Regions from separate parts of the Homo sapiens genome. Here region 2 is linked to region 1. The links come from fine-mapping of genetic effects on gene expression. Tissue or cell type: whole blood. Region 1 holds a variant in brackets; the other region holds the start of a gene. All regions are shown on one strand. Distances are between the middles of the regions.

Region 1 (10,270 bases):
GGGCATGCCTATAATCCCAGCACTTTGGGAGGCCGAGACAGGTGGGTCGCTTGAGCCTGGGAGTTCAAGACCAGCCTAAGCAGCATGGCAAAAACCTGTCTCTACAAAAAAATACAAAAATTAGCCAGGCATGGTGATGTGCGTATGTGGCCCCAGCTACTTGGGAGCTGAGATGGGAGGATCCACTTGAGCCTGGGAGGCTGAGGCTGTGGTGAGCTGACATTGTGCCACTGCACTCCAGCCTGGAGCCTGGGACAAAGTGAGACCCTGTCTCAAGAAAAAAAAAAAGACAACCACTGTTAATATTTTGTTATATTTTAGTTTCGTCTTCTGGTCATATTATTCTCTACATAAAATTCTTTAAAACCTCCTGTTCTGAGGACAAAGACCAAAATTGCTAACTTTGTTTATAAGGTCCAGTATGATACTATCACTTCCTTGTCTCCTTCCTCATCTTGTTCTTTCCATCTGGCTTTCTATGTGTCAGCTCTGCTGGCTTTTTGGTTTCTCATACTCCTCATACTTATATATCCCCCTCTTTTTGTCACAGCTCCTTAAGATTCTTCAGATCTCAGCTCAAGTACAAGGAAGTTTTCTCTGCTCATATATTGTCTCAGAACTCTGCCCATTCCCTTTAGGCAGAGTGTATGAGGCCAGGAATTGTCTATTTGTGTTCTGAATACCTACTAGATGTGTCAGAAACATAGTCAGGATGTGCCATTAACTTTGATATTGAGGAAGTCATCCTACTTAAGGGAGAGAGACCAGTGAATATTCTGTGGCATTCTGAAGTATTTACAAAGTCCTGGGGGAAACAGATGAGTGGAAAAGTTATTCAGGTTCTTAGCAAGGTGTTTGGTTATTAAAGCTGTCTCAAAGGGTTTTAGAAGTTAAAAAGGTGGGTAAAGGCATTCTACTGTGCGAGAGTGGAATGTGTATAAAGCATGGAAATATTAAAAAAAAAAAAAGGCATATGCTAGGGAACAATATGTATTTGGTTTCTTTTTTTTTTTGAGATGGAGTTTCCCTCTTGTTGCTCAGGCTGGAATGCAATGGCGCGATCTTGGCTCTCTGCAGCCTCCGCCTCTCAGATTCAAGCAATTCTCCTGCCCCAGTCTCCCGAGTAGCTGAGATTACAGGCACCCGCCACCACACCCAGCTAATTTTTTGTATTTTTAGTAGAGACGGGGTTTCACTATGTTGGCCAGGCTGGTCTTGAACTCCTGACCTCAGGCAATCCACCCGGCTCGGCCTCCCAAAGTGCTGAGATTACAGGTGTGAGCCACCGTGCCCCTGTATTTGGCTTCTTAATGATACATGGCAAAGATGGATGAAGGGGCAAAGACCAGTGTTGGGAAATGAAGTTGTAATGATAAAAGGACCACATTGATATCAGCTTTATGTGCTAGTCAAGATTTTAATCCCAATTTCCAGTCTCTGCAAAACCCCAGAAGACTTCAAAGCAGGGCTTGTTATTATTAGATAAGTGAAAAGACTTTCTAATTAATACAGCGGAGTCAGGGAGGCAAGAGATATTTAGAACAAAACATTTTTGGAACAAATGAGGTAAGCTTGACTTAAAGACATAGTGTTTTTAGAGAAGGAAGGGATAGATCAGAAAGTAATTAAAAGAAAGGTTTAGCCGGGCGTGGTGGCTCATGCCTGCAATCCCAGAACTTTGGGAGGCTGAGGCAGGTGGATCATGATGTCAAGAGATCGAGACCATCCTGGCCAACATGGTGAAACCCTGTTTCTACTAAAAATACAAAAATTAGCTGGGCATGGTGGCGCACACCTGTAGTCCCAGCTACTCTGGAGACTGAGGCAGGAGAATAGCTTGAACCCAAGAGGCAGAGGTTGCAGTGAGCCAAGATTGCGCCGCTGCATTCCAGCCTGGCGACAGAGCGAGACTCCGTCTCAAAAAAAAAAAAAAAAAAAAAACAAAGATTGATTTAACAGAATGGATTATCTCTTGGATATGGGTAATGATAAAATGATTCAGAGTAACTCTAAGGTCTCTATTATGGATTGATGGTGATTTCATTACTTAATTGATATATAGACTATAGGAGCAAGAGCAGTATGGTCTTTAATTTGTGTTAGATTTGTTGGGTTTGAATCAACTGTAGTACATCAGGTAGAATTGTCCAGGTGGGAAGCAGGAAATAGATTGGAGCTTAGAAGGAAGAGGAGTGCAAAAGGTAACAGATTTAAGTAATACTTGGAGCAGTAGGGCATAGTTCCAAAAGCTTTAGGTCAAACTGTAAACTTCAGTCGGAGAAGGAGGAAGGAGAAAGTAAAATTAGTTGTGGTTTATGGACTTTTGCATTTGAGTCTTTGTATGAATTCTTTTATCACCTAAATCCTCTAAAGCTAATTTTAATCTTCATTGTTAATCAGTATTAATAAAATTCTTACAATATGGGAATACAAATACTGATCCCTAAAAAGGATACTGGTAATTGGTAATTTTGTGTAATTGCTTTCTGAATGTGCATCCATAAGAAGTTTGAGTTTATGGTATTTTTCAATATGAAGTCATATAGAAAAGGGAATCTCTTCGCATATGTTATTATACTGTGCTATATACAGTGGTTGCCATTACCTTTTTAATGATGTTTGGTCGTTATTTATTGAATGCCTTCAGCTTTTTAAATGATGTTTGGTCATTATTTACTGAATGCCTTCAGTCAGTTACAATTATATTTAGTTAATAAAATCAGGCTGATAAAAAAATATGTAGCCTCTGCTTTTTATTGAAAGACCCTTTTTATCTAGGAATTGAATTCTTTTCATTCTCTGCATTCAACTGAGGTCCATTTCAATCTGAAGGCAAGGTAGATTGAATAAGATTTATTAAGGTACTTGAGCTTATAGTAGAAAACAATGACCATTAAAAAGAATTGTACTACATTTGAGTAATATAACTTTGACATTAAAGTTAAATTATAATGAACAGGAAGGTTTGTCAGATTCATACTTGAATCTTTAAATGATTATCTAAGTCATTGATTCTCAGACTTTTTGGATTTCACAGACCAGAAAAATTTTTTTTACTGGTGATTGATATAGGGAATCTAACTTTTTCATCTTAGACTATCAGAACTTTATAAAAACGATAACTACTGTCTTTTGTGATCCACATTTTATTTTTAAAAAAAAGATATTTGAAACCAAAAGTAGGAAGAATAGTCTTTAAAAAAATTTATTAAGAAAAAACTCATTCTAGTACACATTTTTTCTCATTTTCTGTATATCATTGGAAACTCAAACAATTGGGCACAGAAATGTAGGTTCGTATTTGGGAATTATTGATTTAGGTCACCGAGCTAGTAAATGGTAGAACTGAAACTAGGTCCTGCATTCCGATTTCTGTGTCTCAGTTTTGATTATTTTGAGACACCTTCAGTAATTTAAGCATTGTTCTTTGATTTTTGGCTTTTTAAAATATATTGGAATTTAGTTAGACCTGTGGTTAAAAATAAGAATAGCTCCTACTATTTTTACATGCTTCCCTAGATTTTTCCTAATTTTGGACCTATGTGGACAAAAAAAAAAAATCTAGTCCAAGCTTTCACTACCTTCTTTTTTTATTCGCCTTCTGCTTCTGCGTTCCACATGGGACTTGAAGTGGTTTATAAGAATGCATGCTGTGAAATAGTAAAAATAATTTACTGATTTTTAAAAAGCCCTCAGAACGCATATGTATATGTATGTATATGAAAAATGTGTTAGAATCAGGAGGAAACTAGCGTGTATATATGTATATATTTTCCCCGATGCACATTTTTCCATGTTCTTATTTTTTCCTATGCTTATTTCATTCAAGTCTAATATTTTTTCTTATTTTGGTAAATATTAAGGATTAATTGATTGATTTTGCCAGTGAATTTTAGACCTTCATTCTAATAGATAAAAATTGTATTTAGTTAATTACAGGCACAGTGTCTTGCTCTGTCACCCAGGCTGGAGTGCAGTGGTCATAGCTCACTGCAGCCTCAAACTCTTGGGCACAACCAGTCCTCCTGTCTCAGCCTCCCAAGTAGCTAGGACCACAGGTACACACCATCAAGCCCTGGCTAATTTTTTTTTTTTTTTTT[A/TA]ATAGAGATGGGGTCTTACTATGTTTCCCAGGCTGGTCTCGAACTCCTGAGCTCAAGTGATCCTCTCACCTTAACCTCCTGAGTAGCTGGGACTACAGGTGCAGACCACTGTGCCCTTACTTCTATTCTTACTTGACAAAGGAGAGGAAAAAAAAAGGAAGTTTAGAGAAATTAAGTAGTAACTTGTCCAAGTTTACCCACAACCACTAAGTGGTAAAGCTGGGGTTTGAACTTCAGCAATGTGCTTAAATCTCAGTAACTGAAAATACACTATGGAGGACCTTTAGGTTTTCTTAGATTCAGAAGTTCTTTTTCCATGTACAATAAGATTCATTTTTGTATTTTTTATACTGTGCTGGTAGTATGTGAAGGTATATCCTCCAGTGGTAAAAGAACAGATAACACCTGGTAACAATTGCAGGTAATTATATGTTTTTAGAAAAGTGGCTTCCAGTGGGATTTTTGAGATCTGTTGTTTTTGAGATCTTCCTTGAGGTCAGTGTTCTATTAGGACATTGCATCATTTGAATGAGTTTGGTTATCTTGGCACAGTTAGGTAAATCGTTACTGATAATTAAAAAACTAGTAAAAGCTAGTGTGAATATGGTATAGGTTGATGTTGAAATATCTCTTCTCATTATTCTTTGGGGATCATACCAGTTTTATTAAACTTACTTACTAACTTATTCTATCTATATAGGTCCCATGTTCTCTGACTTCTATGTCTCAGCTTCTTTTACTGTTCCAAGAGGCCTTCAGTAATTTAAACATTGCTCTTTGATTTTTGGCCTTTCAAAATATATTGTAGATGTAGATACACACATACACATACACACATACATGCACGTGCATATATGTGTACATGTATTATCTATCTATATGTATAATAAGCCAGTGGTGTTTTTACTGCATGATGAAAATTTAAATTAGTTATTTTTAAAATTTAAACTTTAGTTACAGCTCTTTTGAGGAAGCTTAAGCAGCAATCCAGGGAAAGTGTTGAAGAAAAACGACCTCGATTATTAAAAGCCCTGAAAGAGGTAAGCTATATTTCTTTGTTAATTTTGCACCTTGGAAGTAATTATAAGTGTAGTTTTAAGCATTTTTTTCTTAATACAACTTAAATTCTCACTTATTAGGGGCCAAAAAATGGTAAAAATCATGCTTAAATTAAGCAATAATTAGTGTATGAATGTGATCTTAGTAGAAGCACCTCAGTTTGAACTAGGAAGATAAAGATTTATTACTTTCAATAAATTAGATAAGAGCTCTAAAGAAAAAAAAAGGAGGTAAGTCACAGTTAATGGCAATAATTTTCCTTTGCCTTTGAATTAGAAGATTCTCTATAGCTAAAGCCATTGCTACTAGAAGTGGCAGTTTTTTTTGTTTGTTTGTTTTGGAGACAGCGCCTCACTCTGTCGCCCAGCTAATTTTTTGTATTTTTAGTAGAGATGGGGTTTCACCATATTACCCAGGCTGGTATCAAACTCCTGAGCTCAAGCAATCCGCCTGCCTCAGCCTCCTAGAGTGCTGGGATTATAGGCGTGAGCCACCGTGCCCGGCCTGTATATTCTTTATGTAACAAAAACTCTTTTTATCTGTCCTACCTCCTTGTGGTAAGAGCTGGGTATGCTGGCACACAAAAGAGAGTGGTTTGTTTTCTATTGTTACTCTCTTCTCTGTATTTCTGCTGCCTGAAAGAACTGTGGGAGAAAGATAGACCTGTCATGATGATTATGATGATAGCTTGTCTCTGTTAATGGTGCTTTTTTTTTTTTTTAGATCTTAAGAAATATAGAAAAAGCCAGAAAAATGTTTTACTCATATTGCAATGATATCTACTATTAACATTCACTTTTATCACTTTTTGAAAAAGAAAGACTAACTTGTTGATGTTGCTATATATGTAATGCTCTACTTATATTTAGAATATATACTCTTAACAGTTATAATCTTTGGTGTCTAGCTTCTAATTTGCAAAATAAAATTTTTTTTCGGCCAGGCATGGTGACTCACGCCTGTAATCCCAGCACTTTGGGAGGCCGAAGCGGGTGGATCACCTGAGGTCAGGAGTTCGAGACTAGCCTGACCAAAAAGGTGAAACTCCATCTGTACTAAAAATTAAAAAAAAAAAATTAGCCAGGCATGGTGGCAGGCGCCTGTAGTCCCAGCTACTTGGGAGGCTGGGATAGGAGAATTGCTTGAACCCAGGAGGCAGAGGTTGCAGTGAGCTGAGATCATGCCACTACACTCCAACCTGGGCGATGGAGTGAGACTGCATCTCAAAAAAAAAAAATTTTTTTTTCATAGATATTATATGATGACATGTTTCAGATTTAATAAACTTGTATTATCCCTTTACAGAAAAATATTTTCTATTACAATGGGCCATTTTTTAAATGCCATTATGAGGTTATACAAATAATCATTTTGGTAGTAATTTTTAATAACACTTCTAAAGTTAACTATTTAAAAAATAATATTTATTATTATTGTTATTTTGTTTATACTGGGAAGTGTAATATTTATTGATACAAATTTAAATGCTTATCAGTTTCAGATATGTTACTATGTAATTAAAATATTATAAAATATACAGGTGCATATTTTCCTTTGTAATTAAGTATAGTAATGCATGTATTATAATGTTTTAAGGAATAGCCATATTTTTAAAGCATAAGAACTTTTAACTAAGGTGCATTTAGTAATTATTCATATTTCATTTTTCAGCTAGGTGACTTTTATCTAGAACTTCACTGGGATTTTCAAAGCTGGGGTAAGAGTATGCTATGTTTTAGTATAAAATATGTACTTATGCAGAAATGCAAGTACAAAAATACCTATCATATAGAAATGTTAGGATAACAAATTTAATACTTGCTGTGAGGAAAAGTATTTTTCATGACATTGACTGTAATCGTTATAAAGCCCTATAATATTTAGTTATTCCAACTTGATTAGTAACTTTAATAAATCTTTTTTTTTTTTTTTTTGAGACAAGTTCTCACTGTTGCCCAGGCTGGAGTGCAGTGGTACGATCATAGCTTACTACAGCCTCGAACCCCTGGGCTCAGGCAGTCCTCCCCGCTCAGCCTCCTGAGTAGCTAGGACCACAGGCACATGCCGTCACACCTGGCTAATTATTTTTATTTTTTGTAGAGATGGAATCTCACTGTGTTTCCCAGGCTGGTCTAGAACACCTGGGCTCAAGCGATCCTCCTACCTCGGCCTCTCAAAGTGCTGGGATTACAGAAGTGAGCCACCACATCTGGCCAATAGTTTATATTTTTAAGGTTGAAAATGGCACTTTTAGTTTTAAAAATTTTGTTTTACAAACAGCATTTAAAATTTAATAATAGAATGCAAGGAGTTTTCAGAAAAGAAAATTAATTATGGGATTATGGGACTACTGAATTTAAGGACGTTTGAAATCTAGTACTTAGATCTCTGAATGTGGAGAATTTAGTTAACATTTTTTGTTTATGTATATTTTGTTGTCTTTCCGTTATTTTGCCTCTTGCATACTTTATAGCCACTTTCTTTACATACTGTTTGGTTGAACATTGATTCCAGTGACTTACGAAAGATCCTAATTTTGCCCTAGATTTTTTTGCAGTCATTTATTGACTTACCTTAACAAGGTTTTTCTCCTCATTTTAAACATGAGTCCACTAGAGAGAAAACTTTCATATCCAAATATGAAATTTGATTCTAGTGACCTTTATTTTACTAACTAAACAACTAAATTTTGTTGTTTTTAAAGATTTAAAAAAATGTAATCTCTAAAGGTTTAGACATAATGAGCTTATGTGAGTTTTTGTTGAAGCATCTAAATTAATTTTTTTTTTTTTTTGGAGACAGAGTCTCACTCACTCTGTCGCCCAGGCACGTATGCATATTATACCAAATGAGGAACTTTGGGCAAAGAATTCAAAGTCAGTAGAATAGGAATTTTGAACTAGCAAATCTGTTTCTTTTCAGTTCTACATTCTGTGGCTCTATAGTTTTCTCTATACATTTAAAAACAAATTCTAGACTGTGAAATGGAGATTACTTACAGTACTTAGCCCCATCCAGTGCTGCTACTGCTCTTCCCAGGCAATTTGTAGTGGGATTTCCAGAGCAAGGCTCTGTCTCAAAAAAAAAAAAAAACAGTAATAGAAATTTCACAGTTTTAGGCCTAGTCTATGGGAGGTCAATAAATGCAACTTAATTTAAAACATTACATTCTGATATTTGTTAACCTTGAGGAAGTTATGATATTCTCACAATACACTTGGGTTTGCAAATTCAGCTTCAACTCGTCAGTAAGAAAATAGATTATACAATATACCATATAGCAGTAAAATGCCTAGGAAGTTACCAGATTTAAACTTTAATTAACAATTATACTTGTTATTTCTTCTAATTCTCTTACATCTTCTGATTTCTTCTGAAAAAGTAAACGCAGCCATAAATCTGAAGTCCATTAGCACTTATTTCTCTCTACTGTATGAAAAAATAGTAGTTTTCTACTGTCTTGAGAAAGAATCTGGCCTCTTTTCAACAAGTAATAATTTTCTACAAATTATATTTTTGATAAACTGCCTTCTTTATTTGGAGCTTTTAGATACAAATCAGACTTCCTCTCCAGCTTATGTACATTACAGCTTGTGTAAATTTTAAACATTGATTTTATAACATCTGTATACATTTCTAAAAATTGTATTATGCTTTTTAGTTAGCTTTGACTAATACAAGTTATTTAATACTAAAATTATCCTCAGTTTACTAAGATTTTAATCTATTTTTAATAGAATATTCACTGTAAAAGTTTTGAACATTATAGAAAATTAATCAGGTATTTTTAAGTTTCCCTGTTACCACTTCCCAGAGGTGACTATTGTTAACATTTCGTATGACTACTTTCAAATGCTTTTCAGTGCTTACTAAAGTGTTTGTGTACATAGCTATGCACACACAACCCCTCAGAATTAGGTTTTTTTTCTCCCATGGAATCATACTGTTATATCATTATGCAAGTTGACATTTATTTATTTATTTATTGAGAGGGAGTCTCACTCTATCACCCAGGCTGGAATGCAGTCACGCGATCTCAGCTCACTGCAACCTCCACCTCCTGGGTTCAAGTGATCCTAACACCTCAGCCTCCCGAGTAGCTGGGACTACATGCATGTGCCTTATGTTTTTAGTAGAGACAAGTTTTCACTGTGTTGGCCAGGCTGGTCTCGAACTCCTGACCTCTGATGATCCACCCGCCTCGGCCTCCCAAAGTGTAGGGATTACAGGCGTGAGCTACTACACCCAGCCATCATTTTTATTCAACCCATAGTAGGCATCTTACCATATTTCAGGTGGAAATACTTCACTAATTTTAACAGCTACATAATACTTTATGGCATGGATGATTAAGGTTTTTCTAGTGTGTTTAATCCTTGTATAGAGAATTTTAAATTCTAAATTTAATCAGTTTTTTCTCACATTTTTATAACTCTAGCTCATCAGGCTAGTTTGTCTCTATTAATGATTATGCAGTCTTGTTACTCTAATAGTCCCATCTTGCTTTTATGCCTTATATATCATTCAGGAGTCCTGGTGTCCTAGAACACATAGAAAAACAGGTTTATAGTAGCCTTGTGTAGTAAAGGAGCTCCAAGTTAGATTGGCCTAAAACCTGAATACTGTCTTTTTTACCCCATTTTTTTCCCATGTGGGGAGACCCCAGTCCTGCTTTGTGATCCTAAACTGGGTTGTCCCTTGAGTATTTTGGCTTTTTAACTGATTCTCTTAGTAATCATTAGTGGTTTGAATTCTAAAATAATCAATGTATATTGCTGAACAAAATGTTATAAAATATTTTAAAAGTGATATTTTAATTATACTAAAATATAAATACATGCAATCACTTCTAAAATTGTGTATATATCTATAGTTATAAACAATACATTATAAATGTTGCATAATTGAGTTCCTCAAGTAACCACTGAGACAGTTGTCCAAAGTATTTCTTCTTTGAGAATTTGACTTTGATGCAAAAAGTCAGCACATCTGTTTCATTGCTAATAAAGGATTATAGTGATTTAACATCACAACTATTAATACGTGATGATTAGATGTCATGTATAATTCTAAAACGAAACCCATTGGCTTATAGATAGCCTAGATCTTTT
Region 2 (10,122 bases), 39 kb before region 1:
CTCCCGAGCAGCTGGGACTACAAGCAGACGTCACCATGCCTGGCTGATTCTTTTTGTATTTTTCAGTAGAAATGGGGTTTCACCATGTTGGTCAGGCTGATCTTGAACTCCTGACCTCAAGTGACTTGCCCACCTCGGCCTTCCAAAGTGCTGGGATTACAGGCATGAGCTACCACGCCCAGCCCCAGAAAGCTTTTCTGATCATCCAATTTCTATTTTCCCCAAATAGAATTAATGACTTCCTTTTCTATATTGTATTGGGAGCTTATATAATTTCAATCCTTGTATTTTTCATAATGTATTACAATCATATTTCTATCTTTTTTATAATATATTGTAATCTTACATTTCTGTCATTTTTACAAGCCCTTAAAAATAATGGATGGGGCCAAGTGCAGTGGCTCACACCTGTCATCTCAGCACTTTGGGAGGCTGAGGTGGAAGGATCACCTGGGCCCAGGAGTTCAAGACCAGCCTGACCAACATAGTGAGACACGGCCTCTATAAAAAATAATAATAATAATGAATGGGCTGGGGGCAGTAGCTCACACCTGTAATCCCAACACTTCAGGAAGCCGAGGTGGGTAGATGGCTTGAGTCCAGGAGTTTGAGACTAGCCTGGGTGACATGGCCAAACCCAGTCTCTACAAAAAAATACAAAAATTAGCTGGGCCCTGTAGTCCCAGCACTTGGGAGGCTGAGGCGGGAGGATCCACTTGAGCATGGGAGGTGGAAGTTGCAGTGAGCTGAGATCATGCCACTGCACTCCAGCCTAGCTGACAAAATGAGACTCAAAAAACAACAAAAAATAAGTCTTGGTGTGGTGGCTCATGCCTGTAATCCCAGCACTTTGGGAGGCCGAGGTGGGCGGATCACCTGAGGTCAGAAGTTCGAGACTCAGCCTGGCCAACATGGTGAAACCCCATCTCTATTAAAAATACAAAAATTAGCTTGGCATGGTGGTGGAGACCTGTAATGCCAACTACTTGGGAGGCTGAGGCAGGAGAATTGCTTGAACCCAGGAGGCGGAGGTTGCAGTGAGCTGAGACCACACCATTGCATTCCAGCATGGGCAACGGGAACAAAACTCTGTCTCAAAAATAAAATAAAATAAAAAATAAAAAAGGATGATATTTATTTATTTATTTATTTATTTTTAAAGACAGGATACCTGTCACTTAGGCTGGTGTGCAGTAGTGCAATCCTAGTTCACTGCAGCCTTGGACTCCCAGGCTCAAGTGGATCTCCCACCCCAGCCTCTTGAGTAGCTGGGACTGCAGGTGTTTAGCACCACAGGTGGCTAATATTTTATATTTTTTGATAGAGATGGGGTTTCACTATGTTGCCCAGGCTGGTTTCAAACCCCTGACCTCAAGTGATCCTCCTGCTTTGGCCTTTCAAAGTGTTGGGATTACAGGTATGAGCTACCACACCTGGCCTGAATATTATTTTTGATATGTATGGTGTTTGATTTTACTGGAGGGATACTTATGAGTTTCCACATTCCATGGGTGACATCCATGGGTGACAGCCACTAATAAAGAAATTTCAAATTCAGACTCTAGTGATAGAATACTTCACAAGTATAACGGGATATTATTTGGTGTAGGTTTTTAGTAATAGGATGCTGGCCACTTACCCTATACACACGCTTTGAATATTGGTGTTTTCAAGATTTTGTTCTATATGGACCTTCTTAATTTCTCATTCTATAAACTTTTCTTTGGGGAACTCACCCACTTCTGGAGCATTAATTACTGTGTAATGATAACTTCTGAATCCAGCCCATACCTAGTTCTCTGTTACCTAAGGATCACTTGCAAATATCTAAAATGTAGAACATCTAACTCCCTACAGATAAGCAACTTTCAACTCAATATGCTAAGATTGAACTCATTTTTAAAAACCTCTTAAACCTTTTTCTGCCTCACTCTTACTAACTTGGTTCATGCTCTCATCATCTGATTTACTGCATACTTCTTTAAAGTTCTGTTCTTGATGCATACTTCTCTAAAGTATGAGTGACTGAATTTTCTTTTTTTTAATTTTTTTTTTTTTTTGAGACCAAGTTTTGCTCTTGTCACCCAGGCTGGAGTGCAATTACACGATCTTGGCTCACTGCAACCTCCACCTCCCAGGTTCAACCGATTCTCCTGCCTCAGCCTCCCGAGTAGTTGGGACTACAGGCACCCACCATCATGCCCGGCTAATTTTTGTATTTTTAGTAGAGACAGGGTTTCACCATGTTGCCCAGGCTGGTTTGAACTCCTGACCTCAAGTGATCCACCCGCCTCAGCCTTCCAAAGTGCTGGGATTACAGGCATGAGCCACTGCGTTCGGCCTGAGTCACTGAATTTTCTATAAAGGTGATTGCATTATGCTATTCCCTGTTTAAAGATCTCTAAAAAGACTATTCCTTTTTTTTTTTGGACAGAGTCTCACTCTGTCCCCAGGCTGGAGTGCAGGGGCACAATCTCAGCTCACTGCAGCCCCCGCCTCCTGGGTTCAAGCGATTCTTCTGCCTCAGCCTCTCGAGTAGCTGCGAGTACGGGCACAAGCCACCACGCCCAGCTAATTTTTGTATTTTTAGTAAAGACAGGGTTTCACCATATTGGCCAGGCTGGTCTCGAACTCCTGACCTCGTGATCTGCCCGCCTCAGCCTCCCAAAGTGCTGGAATTACAGGCATAAGCCACCGCGCCCGGCCAAGTGTAAACTTTTAAGATGACATACAAAGCCCTGCATGACCTGGCCCTTCCTCTCTCTCTAGCCTTACTGTCAGATTTGACTGTACCACATTCTAGCATTGAAGTATTGGGCAAGTTTTTTTTAACTGTCAAGTGAGGATACTAATGCTAATCAGGGGGAGATAACAGCATATAAAGTGCCAAGCATACTGCCTGGCTTAGCGTTAACAATAAATATTGGCTATTGTGGAAGAAGCAAACATTATTGCATGTATTTTTTCAGTCTCTACTGCTGTCTCAAGAGGATGCTTTGAACTGTTGATTGGGTAATGTTTTAACATAAACGGAACTCTCCACTCCACCGAAAAAGAAAGAAGAGGAAGAAACAGATTTATCTGAACAGACTGAGAAGAAAATTGGAGGTGAAAAGTTGAGTGACTGGGGAGGATTAAGAGAGGCCCATCGAGTTGTTTGTTTGCGGAGATGAGTTAGCAGTAGTATAAACTTTAAGAAAGAAGAGATCTGGCCGGGCGCAGTGGCTCATGCCTGTAATCCCAGCACTTTGGGAGGCTGAGGCTGGCGGATCACTGAGGTCAGGGGTTCAAGACCAGCCTGGCCAACACGGTGAAACCCCGTCTCTACTAAAAATACAACAATTAGCTTGGTGTGGTGGCGCAGGCCTATAATCCCAGCTACTCTGGAGGCTGAGGCAGGAGAATCGCTTGGACCTGGGAGGTGGAGGTCGCAGTGAGCCGAGATTGCACCACTGCACTCTAGCCTGGACTACAGAGACTCTGTCAAAAAAACAAAAAAACAAAAAAAAGAGAGAGAGATCTGAAGTATTTGCTCTCAGAACATAGGGGGACTTTGGAGAGTTAAATGGGTGAAGATCTTTAGGATGTTTTGCTAAGCCCCCTCCTTACGTCCTCAGTGGCCAGCTTTAGTTACTTTGTTAAAGTTTTATGGTTGGCAGATTTACGTTTCTTCAGAGTTTGACACTAGGTTGAGGTTGGCCATGAACTAATACAATTATATTTCAGTTACACGATTCTTTGCCCTCCTTGAGTGTCCCCACCCTCATATATGTTAACTCTGACATCTGCCCGAAATTCATTCATCTAATAAATATTTGAGTGGCCTCCCCTCTTTCCGATTGCTGGACAGCCCATCATTTTCCAAAGTCAGCACCTAAACTCTTCTATGACTTTCCTGACAACTCAACACTAAAATTCGTCCCTCCCTTTTTTGTGTGCAACCCACCTCCCCGCCTCCGCTTTTAATTGTTTGGCCTTCATTCCTCTTCTACAGTGCTCCCTGCAATCAGTACTGGTGCTGTACATATTTGCTAGCTTCGTACATACGGCACGAAGTAGATGCTCAGTAAATGTTGGTTGACTGAGTATCCTCTGCATCTCGGTGACATCACATCCTGCGTGCCGTGGCGTCATTCTGCATTCCTCTGCGGGAGGCTCAGATCCGGAGGGTTTAAGTGGTTGTTTATAACATGCACCGAACATATCCAACGGAGGCTGTGGTTTCCGACCGCCCACAAAAAGCGCGGTTGGCGGGAGTGCGGGTTCGGGGTCGGCTGGCAGCTGGGAGACTCCAGCTCTGGGCGGAAACACACTGCCTCGGAGGCGCCGGCGCCTAGTGATTCTGGGAATAGAAGGTGCGAGGGAGGGAGCGGGTGGCTCACTTATCGCGGTGTTTTCTCTCTCTTCACTCCTGGGGGAGCTCTCGCGAGAGGAGCAAGAGGAAGATGGCCGTGCCCTGTTTTTCGGTGTAAGGCAGCGACGGCGGCTGCGACGGCGAGACTGAGATCCTGGTGTCGTGGGCACCTGAGTTCTAGCTTCCCCCAGCGAGCGCGCGTCCCTTCGTGCCTAGGCGAGAGCCGGCTCTTCCCCGGGAGATGCGTTTGTCCCAGGCTCGGGGGCTCAGTGGGAGTTCATGCTGCGCTGGAGGCTCTTGGCCACCGCTCTAATCGCCTTGTGCCGCCGCAGCGCCAGCTCCGTCGCCAGCGGTGAGCCTCCCGATTCCCCCCCTTGCCCCTGGCGGCGGCGATGACCGGGGAGAAGATCCGCTCACTGCGGAGGGACCACAAGCCCAGCAAAGAAGAAGGGGACCTGCTGGAGCCCGGGGATGAGGAAGCGGCGGCTGCCCTCGGCGGTACCTTTACCAGAAGCAGGATTGGCAAGGGCGGCAAAGCTTGTCATAAGATCTTCAGTAACCATCACCACCGGCTACAGCTGAAGGCAGCTCCGGCCTCCTCCAATCCCCCCGGCGCCCCGGCTCTGCCGCTGCACAATTCCTCCGTGACTGCCAACTCCCAGTCCCCGGCCCTTCTGGCCGGCACCAACCCCGTTGCTGTCGTCGCGGATGGAGGCAGTTGCCCCGCACACTACCCGGTGCACGAGTGCGTCTTCAAGGGGGATGTGAGGAGACTCTCCTCTCTCATCCGCACGCACAATATCGGGCAGAAAGATAATCACGGTGAGGAGTGCTAGCCCCTCTCCACCTCTCTCCTTCCCCGAGCCTAGGGTGTGCCTCCCCAGGCTTCTGGAATCCTAGGCCCCCTCCAGCAGACTCTTCTTTTTGCCCATCATCCGGGCCGTTCGGTAAATCATGATCGACTCAGTAATAGCGTGCCAGTGGTCAAGGGGTTGGTTCTTGTGGGTGCAAAGGAATGTATCCTCCTTGCCCACTTCAAAGTTTGTCGTGAGAAGCTGTTTTGTTTGAGACAGGCCTTCGATTTGCTGATTCTGGACTGTCAGAAATTTTAGGTTGCCTCCCACCCAACATGGTTTTCTCCCTTTGTTTATGGAGCTATATATCTTTATTTCTCTCTCTTCCCCCTACCTTGGCATTTTAAATTTTGAACGCATAAATTGCCCTCCTCCCTTCATTGCTCACATACAGATCCCATCTTGACTGCAACTGGTTGTGATTTTGCCTGCCACCAGGTTGTTTCTTTTTTGTCTGCTTTCAGTAAACTTAGAATGTTAGATTTCTGAAAGCCACACAGTAGAAATTTGTTGGTATTTGATACGTAGAACAGTTAAAGTGACTTCTCAACAGCCGATTTTTGTTTGAGTAGAGATTTGATTTTTTGCTTGTTTTAAGTAGATAATTGCTAATAGTAATGTCTCATCTTGATGACTGTGACTAAAAATAGTATTATGATTTTTATGGTAATTTTATCTTAGTCAATATTGACCATTTCTTTTTGCCTTGTCAGCTGAATTTTTTGTTTAATTCTAAAAAATAATGTGACTGAGTTGACTTTTAAGCAACAGTAAATTTATTATTGAAGACTAATGTGAACACTGACATTTTAACATTTAATAGCCGTTTTAAACTGGGTAGTTGGCAAATATTGTTGATCGCTCTGCTATTAATATGAAAATTGTATACATTCAGTTAGAACACACTGAACCAACTTTGTGCTCAAAATGATATACGTATCAATGAAATATTTGCCTGTGAAATAAGCTCACTTAATTCCATTGGATCGTAGGCTTTTTAGGACAAAAATTCAGATAAAAAAAACGAGTAAGATTTCTCTTGGCTGTATAATTATCTAACAACTGCATTTGTTTTCAGAATTTACAATGTTGTAATTGTAATAAAATCACCACCTATCATTTATCATAAATCCCCAAAAAAGTATGTTAAAGTTGCAGCCAGTTTTTCTTTCCTACATTTAAATTACTTAATCATTTTACTATTATAGTACAAGGATAATGTTGTTTGTTGATGATGGTAATTCTATGCTAGCCCTTTGGAAAACAGTTGTTAGTGGGAGATGGGTTGTAGCTTCAGTTTATTAGTCTATTATGAGGAAGTTTTTCAAATTTGGTTTACATAGTAGCCATAGTTACATTACCTTGAAATATCCCTGAAACAGATAAAAGGTTTGAGAGTTAACTCCCTTTGAAAGAAGAGATGGATGAATATCACTGAAGCTATTGAATTACAGGATTGTTGGGCTTCCATGTCTTCTTCAACCCAACATTTAGGAGTACATTTGTTTAAGTTCAAATTCTGTTCAAAGTAATTAGAATCCTGTATACTCTTAAACTCTTGTCCTTAGCCCACTGAAATTAACTTTTTTTTTTTTTTTTTTTTTTTTGAGACGGAGTCTTGCTCTGTCGCCCAGGCTGGAGTGCAGTGGTGCAATCTCCGCTCACTGCAAGCTCCGCCTCCCGGGTTCACGCCATTCTCCTGCCTCAGCCTCCTGAGTAGCTGGTAGTACAGGCGCCCACCACCGCGCCAGGCTAATTTTTTTGTAATTTTAGTAGAGACGGGGTTTCACTGTGTGAGCCGGGATGGTCTCCATCTCCTGACCTCGTGATCTGCCCGCCTCGGCCTCCCAGAGTGCTGGGATTACAGGCCTGAGCCACCGCGCCTGGCCTTGAAATTCACTTTTTTAAAGGAAGGTTTTTATTGTGTTTAGCTGACCTTATATCATTGATGTTTCTGATTAATGTAACCGGTGGTTCACATACCTGGGGTAAATATAATTGCTTTCCCCCCTGCAATGTGTACATGCTCATCTCCTACAGTGAGGTGTCCTAGGAACTGTGGCTTCAATTTAATGTGCTTCTTATTTAGTCATTTTTTCTCCCATAGCCTCATAGATTTTTCTGATACATTATTACTTTTAGTCTTGACATTTTACTAACCTGGATGCTTTTAGATTTTTAGGATATTTTTGCTTTAAAATTATAGAAGATAAATACTTATAAAATCACTTAAACAACAGCAAGCTTGGCCAGGTGCGGTGGCTCACACCTGTAATCCCAGCAGTTTGAGAGGCCGAGGTGGGTGGATTACCTGAGGTCAGGAGTTCAAGACCAGCCTGACCAACATAGTGAAACCCCGTCTCTACTGAAAATATGAAAATTAGCCTGGCATGGTGGTGCATGCTTGTAATCCCAGCTATTTGGGAAGCTGAGGCAGGAGGATCGCTTGAACCTGGGAGGCTGAGGTTGCAGTGAGCCAAGATCGCACCGTTGCACTCCAGCCTGGGTAACAGAGTGAGACTCCGTCTCAATAAATAAATAAAATAAAATAAATAAATAAATGATGTATATTCTCTTTGGATTGCTTTAACATAAATGCATAGCAGAATAAGACACTCATACAGGTACATAGCAGAGCCAGACAATTATACCATGTATTACATAGTTTTATGTTCACCGTAAGGATTCCTTTCACAACATGATGATGACAGTGATGATTATTGTCCTTATTATAGACACAATTTATCCAGTGGGTCAGCAGGGTGCTAAGTGTTTACATACATTGTAACATTTAATCCTCACAGCAGCCCTGCAAAGGAGTGCAGTGGAATGATCTGCTCTTGCTGTAGTCTCTGCCTCCCGGGTTCAAGTGATGCTTCTGCCTCAGCCTCCTGAGTAGCTGGGACCACAGGCGTGTGCCACCATGCCTGGCTAATTTTTGTATTTTAAGTAGAGACTGGGTTTCACCGTGTTGTCCAGGCCTATCTCAAACTCCTGGCCTCAGGTAATCCACTCACCTCAACCTTCCAAAGTGCTGGGATTACAGGCGTGAGCCACCGTGCCAAGTCCAAAGCAGATAGTTTTACACTCATTTTAAAAATAAGAAAAATAAGCCTAGAGAGGCAAGGAAACGTCACTAAAGTTATATAGTATAAATCTCAAAGCTATAAATCATAGCAAGGACTCCAAAGCATATCATGAACCTCTTTGTAAGTATTTCTATTGATTAGGACCCTCTATATTGCAAGGAAGTCAATTCTCATAATGTGCGTTTGGTGTTTTATAGCAAAGTTCTTTAATGTATTTTTTAAATATATTTTTTTCTCATTTGTTCCGTACAAGAGTCTTGTAAAGAGATTCTACCATTGGACAGCTCAGGTTTTTCTGTGGAGCCCAGATCTCTTAGCCTTGTTTGTTATTTCTTTTTTATATAACGGCCCAAATAAATGGGCTACTTTGTCCACATGATAGCCCTTTAGATATTTGGCAAGATTACCTTCAGGTTAAATATTCCTAACTTTTGTATCCATTCCTCATCACATTGTTTGTGAAGTATTTAGAATAGTCCCTGAAACATAGTGAATACTATATGTGTGTTAAATAAGTAAATGAAAATCTTCATCATCATCGTTTAGTAGAACTTGTTTGTTAATTCTTCCCTTAGAAGATGGTGCCCAGAACTAACCTTATTGCTGGAGATATATTAGCCTTGTGAGCAAAGACAACAGGGAGACTATATTGCTGTAAAGCAGCATATACTTAGTTATGCAGTGCAAGAGTATGTTAATTAATTTATTATTTTTTGTGATGGAATCTCACTCTGTCACCCAGGTTGGAGTGCAGTGGTGCAATCTTGGCTCACTGCAACCTCTATCTCCTGGGTTCAAGCAATTCTCCTGTCTCAGCCTCCTGAGAAGCTAGGACTACAGGCATGCACCACCACACCGGCTAATTTTTGTATTTTTGTATTTTTAGTAGAGACAGGGTTTCACCGTGTTGGCCAGGCTGGTCTGGAACGCCTGACCTCAAGTGATCTGCCCACCTCAGCCTACAAAAGTGCTGGGATTACAGGCATGAGCCACCATGCCCGGCCAAGAGTATGTTAATTTTTTAATTATGTTTTTTTCTCAAGTGATCTGCTGTCTTTCCATTCTATCCCTTCTTGTATTTATTTATTTTTTTAACCTCAACGCAGGACTTTAGAGCTATTACATTTTATTTTGTTAGTTTTGGTCCTTTATTGTACCTGGAGAACTTGTTGAATCCTGATTTGGTCACTATTTAGTTCAGTTCATAAGCTATTTCAGTTTAAACTATCACTGATTTGGTAAAATTTTTGGTGTGTGTGTGCATTTGCAAGTTACTGACTTAAATTGAATAGAAGAAAGGATAGAGCTTTTACTTTTGTGGTAAAATATTGGTTGAGTAGGAATTTTTTTTTTTTTTGAGTCATCAATTATTTTGTGAAGTATTGTATTCTGGGTCCAAACATATTTCTTGAGGTATGTTTAAGTACAGTAACAGCTATAAAATCATGTATATGTTGTATTCAAATATGCCAAATGATTGTGACTCATCACTTAATAACAGCTGTTTTTTGGGTGGGGAAGAAATATTAAAAGTACACAAAATTATGGAACTCTATCTTTGGTTATATACCACTTTTTTCTTTAGTGTAAAATTAAAAGATTGAATCTAAGCCTTTTTCCATAGTCAGAGTGTAAGGATTTTTCTGAATCAATTTTTGCCATTGATAGTTTGGCAAAGGATCATGATGACAAGACATTTTTTATAATTGATAATAATTTTACTTATTGAGAATTGAGAATATGAAACGTATAGAAGATTTTCTTGGTTTGACTGTACTTCTGATTGGTTAGACTTGTAATTTTGTTTTTTCCTTTGAGTTAAATG

What was found. PIP is the estimated chance that this variant, and not a neighbour inherited with it, causes the effect. A credible set is the group of variants that fine-mapping cannot tell apart.
Region 2: it holds the start of ANKRD13C, and the variant in region 1 is the best candidate, but not a certain one, in a credible set for the expression of ANKRD13C in whole blood (INTERVAL, PIP 0.52).

The regions. Positions count from the first base shown.
Region 1 is chr1:70,310,351-70,320,620 of GRCh38, reverse strand. It overlaps ANKRD13C (ankyrin repeat domain 13C), which reads left to right. Exons shown (of 13, transcript NM_030816.5): 4 at 5,055-5,140; 5 at 6,831-6,876. Among named protein-coding and RNA genes, the nearest start is that of ANKRD13C, 39 kb to the left of the region's middle. The variant A/TA (reference allele first, on the strand shown) is at 4,101.
Region 2 is chr1:70,349,033-70,359,154 of GRCh38, reverse strand. It overlaps ANKRD13C (ankyrin repeat domain 13C), which reads left to right and starts at 4,433. Exons shown (of 13, transcript NM_030816.5): 1 at 4,433-5,176. The coding sequence starts at 4,747. ANKRD13C-DT (ANKRD13C divergent transcript) reads right to left here and starts at 4,344. Exons shown (of 4, transcript NR_168352.1): 1 at 3,947-4,344. RefSeq lists enhancers at 23-82, 4,054-4,113, 4,214-4,273, 4,324-4,513, 4,544-4,603 and 4 more.